Linked DNA regions of Homo sapiens: region 2 is linked to region 1. Evidence: fine-mapped expression QTL. Tissue or cell type: hypothalamus. Region 1 holds a variant in brackets; the other region holds the start of a gene. All regions are shown on one strand. Distances are from middle to middle.

Evidence for each region. PIP is the estimated chance that this variant, and not a neighbour inherited with it, causes the effect. A credible set is the group of variants that fine-mapping cannot tell apart.
Region 2: it holds the start of MXRA8, and the variant in region 1 is the best candidate, but not a certain one, in a credible set for the expression of MXRA8 in hypothalamus (GTEx, PIP 0.70).

What each region holds. Positions count from the first base shown.
Region 1 is chr1:1,327,534-1,332,853 of GRCh38, reverse strand. CPTP (ceramide-1-phosphate transfer protein) reads right to left here. Exons shown (of 3, transcript NM_001029885.2): 3 at 3,958-5,320. The coding sequence ends at 5,091. It overlaps TAS1R3 (taste 1 receptor member 3), which reads right to left and starts at 1,574. Exons shown (of 6, transcript NM_152228.3): 1 at 1,318-1,574; 2 at 916-1,216; 3 at 48-830. The coding sequence starts at 1,508. The variant A/G (reference allele first, on the strand shown) is at 3,080.
Region 2 is chr1:1,355,566-1,360,922 of GRCh38, reverse strand. It overlaps MXRA8 (matrix remodeling associated 8), which reads left to right and starts at 2,368. Exons shown (of 10, transcript NM_032348.4): 1 at 2,368-2,467; 2 at 4,219-4,242; 3 at 5,171-5,357. The coding sequence starts at 2,419. RefSeq lists a silencer at 2,235-2,354 and enhancers at 2,685-3,267, 3,855-4,407.

The DNA.
Region 1 (5,320 bases):
GCCTGGGCACATGCAGAGGACAGCACACCCCCATCTCCCGGGCTCACCTGCCAGGGCTTCACGGGGTCCTGCGCGGGGCAGCCTGAGGCGTTGCACTGAAGAGTGTTGTGCAGGGCCTGGGCCACGCTATACACAGCTGCGTAGACAGAGAACGTCTGGTGGTGATTTAGCCCTGCGCTCACGTTCTGCAGCGTGATGCAGTCACACTGCGGGCAGCGCTGGCCCACCACGTCCTCCTCCAGACCCTGCTCCCTCTCGCCCAGGGCAGAGCAGAAGGCCGGGTCGGTGGCCAGGGCCAGGTGCGTCTTCACGTACTGGGGGAACTCGTGCAGCTGGGCACCCCTCTGGAGGAAGCCAAGCACCGTGCCCATCTGGGCCATGCCGGGCAGCCCCATGACCAGGTCAGAGGTCAGCCAGGCCTCGCTGGCCACCCACACCTTGGGCGAGAGCCTGCTGCTGATGCTGTAGTTGAAGAGGGCGTGGGCGGCGTGCACGGAGGCGAACAGCAGCACCACCTGCACGCTGCTCTGGTTCACCTGGTGCAGGACGTCCTGCACCTTCCCCAGCCGCGAGTCATCGGCACGGGGCAGCGGCACCAGGCCCTCGTGCGCGATGCAGATGCCGCGTGCCGCGGCCAGGGCCGAGAAGATGCTCAGGCCCTGCCGGCCGTACTCGTCGTCGCTGCCCAGGGCGGCCACCCAGTTCCAGCCGAACTCCTGCAGCAGCTCCGCGGCGGCCGTCAGCTGCACACGGTCGCTGGGCACGGTGCGGAAGAAGGAGGGGAAGGTCTCCCGGGCGCTCAGCAGCTCCATGCTAGCACCGTAGCTGACCTGCAAGGGCCAAGAGGCATCTCCTGACACAGGGGCTCCCACGGGCAGGGCTGGGTGGGGGTGGGTGATGGTGGGGGGCGCCCACCTGGGGCATGAGGAAGAAGCTGAAGAACTTGCCGGTGACCATGGCGAGCTCTGACGAGTGGGGCCCGATGACAGCCAGCACACGGGGCTGGTACTGCGTGTAGTTGCAGTAGGCGGCGATGTCGCGGCTGCCTGCCTTGGCCAGGAACATGAGGCTGGGCTTCATGGCCACCACAGGCTCCGAGCACGTATCAAAGAGGTCGTAGCCCAGGCGCAGCCCGGGCAGCAGATCCGACTTGTTGTTGATCTCCTCCACGGCCATTTTCATGGCCAGTGCCCAGAGCAGGCCGTTTGAGGAGAACCTGGGGCCACACAGAACCGCAGATGGCCACCTCGGCCCCAGCTCAGGAGCACCCCAGACCTGGTCACCCTGACCCCGACCCAGGCCGTCCCACCTCTGTACCTGGTGCACACAGGGCTGCTGGGCCGTGTCCGGCTGCGGAGGCCAGCCTCCTCGGCCTCGCCCAGGGGGAACAGCCCCCCCAGCACGTAGTCCCCCTTCATCCTAAGTTGCTGTGACAGGCACAATGGGGCCCCCGTCCCAGGGTGCAGGAGAGCCCAGAGGCTGAGGCCCAGGACAGCAGGGCCCAGCATGGCAGAGGCAACTTCCAACAGGCACGGCAGGTGGCTGCCCCGACTGGGGCCTCACATGGAGTGAGCCCGGGGCGGGGAGCGGGCAGAGGATTTGTTTAGCAAAACCCTTGCCATCCTCACTTGCCACACCCTGGGGCCCCAGTGGTGTCCTCGCTTCCTGGGCCTGAAAGTTTGTGCGCGTCAGACTCTGCCTGAGGCCACTGCCAGGCTCTATGGCCAGCGTTGACCGGCAGGCAGGCTCTGCTCAGTTGCTGGCCGTGGCCTTGTTCCCTGCCTGTGGCTGAGCCCCTTGCCACCCCCCGATTCCTGGAGTTGCCCAGCAGGCTGTGGAGAGGAGAGGGGGCAAAGGGGCCTCCAGGGCTCTGAGGTCTCAGCTGCGTGGGAGGGATGCAGAGACACCCAGCCCTGGGGCTTTTCATAAGCACAGAAATGCCTCCTACCCAGCCCCGGGAGCTTCTGGCTCCCACTCAAGGCTGTGCTGGCCGGAGCCGGGGGCAGCAGGGATGGGCCCCCTAGGCCTGCAGACCAGTCAGGCCAGTGGGCAGCCGGCCAGCCAGGCCTCCACCCTGCAGCTGGGGAGGGCCCTGGGGTGGTGGTGCTGCCCTCCCAGTCTGCTTGGGAGCAGAGTTCCTTGAGGGTCTCAGCCCTTCTGCCAGAGTCTGACGCCTGGAAGCTGTAGGAACCGCATGGCCAGCTGTACTCACACTGCTGACCCCCGTCTGGGCCACTCCTGCGTGGCAGGCACACAGGTGGCTCCTGCTGGGGGTAGAGTTTGTTTGCCAGGGGGGCACGCAAACAAGGGAGGAAGGGCCACAGGCAAATGAGCGGCAGCTGGAGCAGCACCAGGTGTGCAGGGCCGGGACTCCTCTGCCTCTGTGTTGCTTTGGGGGTGCCCTCGGGGACACAGCAGACTCCAGGCGCAGGCCCTCCCAGGGGAACTGGGGGGCACTCAGCTTCAGCTAGGGCCTGGCAGACCTAGCAGATACCAGGAGGTGTGCCCTGGCTGGTGCTTCTTCCCCATGGTGTTGTGAGGAGGACCTGTGAGGGACACACACTACCACCGCACATGCATATGGCACATGCTGAGCACACGTGAATATGGCGCACATGCGAACCTGGCACACGAGCACAGGAATGCGGCACACACACAAACGGCACATGCGCATGGTACACGCGAATGGCACATGCACGGCACACGTGCATGGGACACGCACGGCACACGCAAGGAACACATGCATGGCATGCAAACGGCACACATGCATGCCACACGTGCACAGCATACATGCAAATGGCACACGTGTACGGTGCACACGAATGGCACATGCGCATGGTACACACAAATGGCACACGCACGGCAAGTGCATGGCACACGCGCATGGCACACACAAAACGGCACATGCAAATGGCACACACACGGCACACACAATACACACGGAAACGGCACATACACAAATGCCACACATGCATGGCACGCAAGCAAACGACGTGTGGCACACGCGCATCGCACGCAAATGGCACGTGCATGACACAAATGGCACATGCAAACAGCACACACATGGTACACGCAAAGC[A/G]CATGGCACGCACATGCGCACAGCATACGCTCACAGCACACACGGCATACACAAATGGCACACATGCACGTGGCACACGTGCACGGCCAACACGCAGCACATACGTGCATGGCACATACACGAAAACAGCACACGCTCACGGCCAACACGCATGGCACATGCAACTGGCACCTGCACATTGCACAGATGGCACACATGCACATGGTACATGCAAACAGCACATGCAAACGGCACACGTGCGGCACACGCAAATAGCACACTCGCACTTGGGACACGCAAACGGCACAAGCATGGCACTTGTACAGAAGGCAACACCCGGAGGGAGCCCTGCCCTGGGGCCCACGCAGACCCAGGCAGTTCTCCCGGCCCATACTGCAGTCGGCAGCCTTTGCCGGCACCATATGCAGCTCCCACAGACCCTGAGGTGGGGGTGACATCCAGGAAGACTCTGCTGAATTGCATCCCCTTTCTGTCCAGGCCACTGTTGTGGCTGGGAGTGGCCCCCACCTCCACGCACACATCCCACGCAGGCCTCTCCTCTTTTGCATGGAGAGGCGGATGTCTGCCCTCCCAACCGTCCTCCCAACCCAGCCTCTTGGTTCTGGGTGACTCTGTCTCTCTCTTGTCTCACCTGTACAACAGGCATAGTGATGGGACCTCTCTGGGAGAATGGGCACACAGCAGCCCTGCCTCCAAGGCTGGCCTTTTCTCAGGGTGTTTGTTGAGCCCTGGGGCTAACACAGCCCCCTGAGCCTGGCAGTGGGGCCTCAGCTCCCTTGGAGTTAGGTGCACCCACCTCAGCTGTGTCCCTGGGGTGAGGGCCCTCCCCACCCTCACTGGGTGCCCCTGTGTCCCCCTGCAGGAAATCAGGCACCCAGTGCACCCCAGCGTCTCCCTCCTGGGAGGCTGTGTGATTTATTAACGTTGGAAGACATCACATAGATTGCACTCTGGAAGCTCGCATGTCTGCTGGGCCGTGGGGGCCGTCCCTCTGCCACCCCGAGGTGCTGGGGTCCACTGTGAAGAGCCAGTGGCCAGGCCCCAGGCACTGGATGGTGGCTGGGCTGGTTGTGGCTGTCTGGTAGCCTTTGGCTGGGCCACAGGGTCCAGACCCTCCTGTTCCGTGCCCCACGGGTCTCCTGAGCACTGTGGGGAGGGGGCATCAAGGGGCACGGGGGAGAAGGGACACAGCATTTCACTGGGTGTAGCAGAGTCCCAGCTCCTGGGGGCCTTGGGCTGGGCTGGGCTGTGCAGACCCACGGCCGCTGCGGGAGGCGGCCTGCTGCGTCCCTCGGGGAACTGGTGCCGTGCAGGGGCTACGGAGGAGGCTGTCCCAAGGGCGGGGACTTCCTGGGCCCTTCTGTGAGGAGCCTTGGTCTCAGCTTCCGGCTGTCCTGCCCCCAGTCTGCCTGGCACGCTGAGGGGCAAACAAGGCAGGAGAGGCGGGGAGAGCCCCACAGTGCCCAGACTGCTGTTGAGGGTTTCTGCCAGCCAGGGCATGGAGGGCACTGAGTCCCCTGGGCTCAAGGCTGCCCACCTGGGCAGACACGGGGTCCCAGGCACGGGCCTGAGATGAGGACACATCGGCTGGCAGAAAGGAGAAAGGATGGAGCCTCCACACCCCGGGACCTGTGACTTCACCCTGGTTCGCAGATGCACCCCACAGGCTAGGGGGTGGCGACCTTTCGGGCTCTTGCAGGCCCGGCCCCCACCCCTGCCTGCTCTGCTCTGCACCGCACCCTGGCGAGGCCTGGCTGCGCACGCGTGTAATAGGCCGAGGGGGAGCCGTGGCCGAGGCGTCTTGTTCCGGACCGAGAGGGTGGGCCTCTTCTGGGCTGGTCGCCACCTTCTCTGTCACAGTCTGTGGTTCCTAACCAGCTCAGCTCACAGGGGCGACAGAGGATCTCCTGTTCCCGCAGCGCCCAGAAGGCTCTGCCACGGGACTCACGGCCCTGGCCACCGCAGCCCAGATCTGCAGCAGGAAAGCCGGTGCGGCCCTGGCTTCCCGCCCCTAGGGCAGGTCCAGCAGGGAGTGCTCGGCGTAGAGCTTCTGGGAGACGTTGTAGACACGCTGGATGAAGGGGAGGGCCTCGCCTAGCATCTGCACGGCCTGCTCCGGGGGCCCCACGTTCATGGCCTCCAGGAAGACCTCGCGTGTGGGCAGCGTGCAGAAGGCCACGGTGACGGCGCGGCGCACGACCCAGGGGTGGTAGGCGGCCAGCGAGGCGTTGTAGGAGTCGG
Region 2 (5,357 bases), 28 kb before region 1:
TCTTCGTGTGCATGCGTGTGTATCTCTGTGTGTCTCCATGTGTGTCTTTGTGTGTGTGTGCATGTGTCTGTGCACACTCATGGGAGTGAATATGGGCTTGGCTGTGCTGCTTGTGGCTCTGAGTGCCTGTGGTTTTTCTTCCCAATGAGACGGGCTGCCTGGAATGTCCGAGTCACCAGGAATGGCAGCCAAGATCAGATCCTCAGTGCGGGCCGTGGGGCCAGCTGACCCCTCTTGCTCCACCCCAACCCCCAGAGGTGGGGCTAGGAGGACGGTCCAGGGCGCTGGTTTGGCTGGGGGCTTAGCCAGAGCACAGTGATGCCAGTGGCTTTGTCCTGGTTTGTCCTCTTCCCAGAGGGAGAAAAATGCCAGGCCAGGCTGGGAATTAAGTCACACACCCACAGCTCTGCAGACCACCCCCCAGCGAGCAGAGGCTCCACAGTCCCAGCCCAGGAAGGTGCAGAAGAGGCACAGGTCACTGGCCCTGGGAGGAGCAGGTGACCTGGTCACTACCAGGCCTGCTCTTCTCTGTGGCTGTTTCCCACTGAGGGCCGGACAGGGAGGGTCAGGGAAGGGGCCTGATGGCCTCATCAGCCTTTTGTTCCTTGCCCAGGGCCCCATGGGGGTCAGCTGCCCCCAGGTGGCCCTCTCAGAGGTCAGGGCCCTCTCAGACGACAGCCTCTGGCCTGCATCTCCGCTGGCTGGGTCCCCGAAAGTGTGGCTGGAGGCCACTGCCCGGAGAGGGACGGCCCTGCAGAGTGAGGCGAGCCCTGGCCTGAGGCTGTCGTGCGGACCAGGCGCCCCTCTCAGCCCTGCACCCAGAGCCGGGCCCTCCCAGACCCGAGGGCCAACCCTGTCCCCCCACCAAACTGCTGTCCGTCCTCCCTCCATGGGGAGAGAGGGAACAGGGAGAGTGACGGAAGGAGACAGAGACTGCAGAGGCCAAGGCCCCAGAGTGTGCGACGGAGACAGACATGGGCGGGCGGGCAGCTGCCAGCACTAATACAAACCAGTTGGAAAAACAGGAGGAGAGGCCAGCAGAGGCCTCGAGGCCAGCCAGGTGGGGCTTGTTTTTCCAGAATGAAAGGCCCAGGGAGGGAGTGGGGGTGGCGGGATGTGTTCAGCCCTGAAGCCAGTTTGGAAAGGTCGCCGCCCGGGCCAGGACCCTGCTGAGGAAATGGGTCTGACCGGGCTGGGGTGGGGTGGGGTCTTCTGTCCTTACGCCGGTCCGTGTCCTGCCCGTTCCTCTCACTGGAGCAGCCGCAGGTTCCCCTCCCCTCGCCCTGAGACCACCACTCTGATCTGCACTGGGCTTCCCACTGTCTGAGGACTTGGGCACCAGAGCAGGGTTCAGGGGTGAGCCCCCCACCCAGCTGGGGCCCTCGGGGCCTGTAAGGAGAGCTCACTCCAAGTGGGCGGGCGGAACTATGCACTGAGGGTTTCTAGTGGTTGTGGTTGTTCAGATTGTTTTTTCTTGAGGTTTGCTTGATTAGAAGGAGTTGGGTTTGCTACACAGTGCAGGCTGTTATTTCGCATTTGTTTATGTGACTTTGTAAGTTTTCCCACAGTTTCAAATTTGTGCCTTCCATGGCAGGGGTCCCACTCTCCCCTTTCTCCAGGAGGCTTGTAATCCAGCACCTGGTTTCAGGGACACCAGGCTGCACCCTAAAGGCGGGCAGCCCCAGGGGACGGGGCCAGCAGGGAGAGGTCTGCTCACCCCAGCACCCCCAGGCCTCCCAGTGCTCAGGGTCCCCTGTCCCTGGCTGACTCTCCAGGTTGTAAAGGGGACTAGTGACTGGCAGCGTCCATCATCCTGGCCCAAGGGAGCCCACCGTGGCCCCCAGAGGAGACGGGTACCAAGGTCATGCAGGGCCAAGGGTTGGAGCTGGAAGGGCCATCTGGTCTGAAGGAGAGCACCAGCGTGCACCGTGGGTGGGGGCGGTCTCAGCGCTGGGAGGCCTTTCTGGGGCCTGGAGCAGACTGAGGGGAGGACCCTGCCCTGAGGTGGCTCACGTGGGGGGAGGCCAGAGGTGGGGCGGAGGGGCCACTCACCCAACAGTCCCAACCCTTCACCACAGGCCCGGGAGGCTCCTAGACGTGAGACACGATCACGTGGTATCAGGGGCCCATGTCCTCGGACCTTCTTGTCCCTCCAAGGGTGCGGTCACCACCCCTCCCCAGGCCTGACCGGTGAGGGGCTGGGCCTCTGCTCCCACACTGCCCCTCCCCAGCAGGCCAGCAACGATGGGGGAGGCCAAGGGGCCCGGCAGGAGCCAGAGGGGGCGGTCCCCAGACCGTAGACAGGCCCAGGCCTCCGTGATGTCACCGCGGGTGCTAAGGAGGGGGAGGGGGTAGGGCTGTTTTTCTGGAGAGAGACTTAGAGCCGAGTGGGACAAAGCCTGGGGCTGGGCGGGGGCCATGGCGCTGCCATCCCGAATCCTGCTTTGGAAACTTGTGCTTCTGCAGAGTGAGTGTGGGGCCCTGGGAGGCGGGTGGGGGGTGGCACGTGGGGCTGTGCGAGTCCGTTTCGGACAAAACCGCCCATCTGAGCTTGGGCCAGGAGGAGTGGGAAGGTCCCACCAGGGAAGAGGACGGGTCTGGGGGCGCTCGGGAGAGCCGCTTGCCAGAGGCTGTGACGTCTTCAGTTAGACTTTGGCCAGCCTCCCCTCCTAGGGAGTTGAAGCCCAGAGGGCCAAGAAGGGCTGGGGGCCCAGGCACGGCGGCGTCTCCCTCGGGGCCCCTCCTGCAGCCCCTCTTGCTGGGGCTCTGTTTAGGGAGTGGGTCAGTGATTGAAGGGGACCTGAGAACTGTGGGGTCTGTTCCAGCCCCCGCTCCCAGGCCTGGGCTGGCTGCTGACCGGGCACATTCCTCTGGGAAGCTCCCAGGCTCTCGGCCACATCTCTGGGGCAGTTTTCACATAGGATCTATGTGAGGGAGAGCAGCCCCCAGTGATCTAGAGACACAGGATAGAAACAGCTTTTATCACCCACGGGCCCTGGGGTGCACAGACTGCTGGGAGGCCAGGGAAAGTGGAGAGAGACAGGGACCCCCAGGCCAACCCTTTATTGGGATCAGGGCGTTCTGCATACAGGTTTCCCTCAGGGAATTTTTTTGGAGGCAGTTTCTCTCTCGCCAAGGAGGCTGCAGTGCAGTGGCGTGATCTCGGCTCACTGCAACCTCCACCTCCCGGGTTCAAGTCATTTTCTTGCCTCGGCCTCCCAAGTAGCTGGGACTATAGGCGCCCACTACCACCCCGTCCGGCTAATTTTTTGTATTTTTAGTACAGATGGGGTTTTTCATATTGGCCAGGCTGGTCTTGAATTCCTGACCTCAGGTGATCCACCTGCCTTGGCCTCCCAAAGTGCTGGGATTACAGGCGTGAGCCACCATGCCTGGTGGGGGAGTTTTAACTGGTGGGTTTAAGGCAAGCGGCACGAGCCCCGTGGGGCCACGCTGACTGTGGGGGGACTCCGTGGTGCAGCTGCACAGTCCATGTGGGGCGTGGGGTCTGTGGGGACACAGGGGGTGGTCACCAGGGGACAGTGCGTAGGGCGGGCGTCTGGGTGGATCAGCTCGAGGACGGGGGATGTGAATTGGAAACTGTCCCGGGTGGCAGCCCCGCTTCCGGTCAGAGAAAGTCCAGCCTAGATTCAGAGTGGATGCCGAGGCGGCCTACGACAATGAGAGTCCCTCAAGCAGCAACGCGGGCCTGTGGGGCGGCAGCCGGGGTCACGACCCACATTCAGCCTTCAGGCCTCTGCCCTGCGGAAGCACCTCAGGGGCTGCGCTGAGCCTTAGGTGTGGTGTGGGGTCCCCAGCGTCTGAGGGTCCAAGGACCCTCGGGGGCTGGGGCACAGCCCTGGAGGGAGCGTGGGGGAACCCACAGATCCAGCCTCCTTGGTGCTCTGGGTGACTTGGGTGCAGCCAGGTGGAGTGGCCCCGGTGACAAGCACACACCCCAGAACCGGCTGGCTTGGAGCCTGGCCCTGGCCCACGCCCATGCCCTGGCTTCCCCACTCAAGGGCAGGTGCCATCCAAAGCCCAGCACGGTGGCAGGGAGGGCTATGTAGGTCTGTGTGAGAGGCGTCCTCCCTGCACTGAAGTGGGTGTCACAGCATCCACTTTGGGACTACAGGAGGGACTCTGGGGGCCAAGTGGGGGGTCTCGGGGCTGGGTGGGGCTGTGGGTGGCCTCTCCAGCTCACTCCTCTCCTTCCAGGCTCTGCTGTTCTCCTGCACTCAGGTTAGTGACCCCAGCCCCAGCTGCCCACCCCCACTCCCCCTCAGCCCCTCCTATCTTGCCAGGCCCAGCCCCCGGGGGTCCTCAGGCCCTGCCCCTCCCCCACTGATTCCCCCTTGCTCATCAGGACCCTTGGGCACCTCCCCTTGCCAATAACTCCCCCTCCCCCAATGACTCCTCTTCCCCTACCAGGGCCCTTGGGGGCCTGGCCCTCCCCCACAGACTCCCGCACACCCACCAGGGCCCTCGGGGGCCCACCCCTCCCCCACAGATGCCCCCACTGACTCCCCTTCCCCAACCAGGGCCTTCGGGGTCTGCCCCTCCCCTACTGAGTCCCCTTCCCCACCAGGGCCCTCGGGGCCCACCACTCCCCCATGGACTCCCCATCCCCCACTAGGGTCCTTGGGCCCCATGTCTCCCCGACTGACTTGCCCTCCCCCATGGACTCCCCCTCCCCTGCCAGGGCCCTCGGGGGTCCACCACTCCCCCAATGATTCCCCTTCCCCCACATGGGCCCTAGGGGGCATGCCCCTCCCCCATGGAATCTCCCCCACCACGAGGGGCCTCAGGGGCCCACACCCCCCCAAAGATGCCCCCAACCCCGCCAGAGTCCTTGGGGCACACCCCTCCCCCAGTTACTCCTCCTCCTCCACCAGGGTCCTCAGAGCCCGCCCCTCCCCCACTGATTCACCCTCCCCCATCAGGACCATCAGGGTCCGCCCCTCCCCCAGTGACTCCCCCTCCCCTATCCAGGCCCTCGGGGGTCTGCCCCACCCCACGGACTTCCCCTCCACCACCAGGGCCCTCTGGTCCTGCCCGTCCCTTACAGACATCCCTCCCCCACCAGGGCCCTGCCCCTCCCCCACTGACTCCCCCAACCAGGGCCCTAGGGGGCCCACCCCTTCCCCCACCGACTCCCCTCCCCCACCAGGGTCCTCGGTACCCGCCGCTGCTGGCAGCTCCGTGGTGTCCGAGTCCGCGGTGAGCTGGGAGGCGGGCGCCCGGGCGGTGCTGCGCTGCCAGAGCCCGCGCATGGTGTGGACCCAGGACCGGCTGCACGACCGCCAGCGCGTGCTCCACTGGGACCTGCGCGGCCCCGGGGGTGGCCCCGCGCGGCG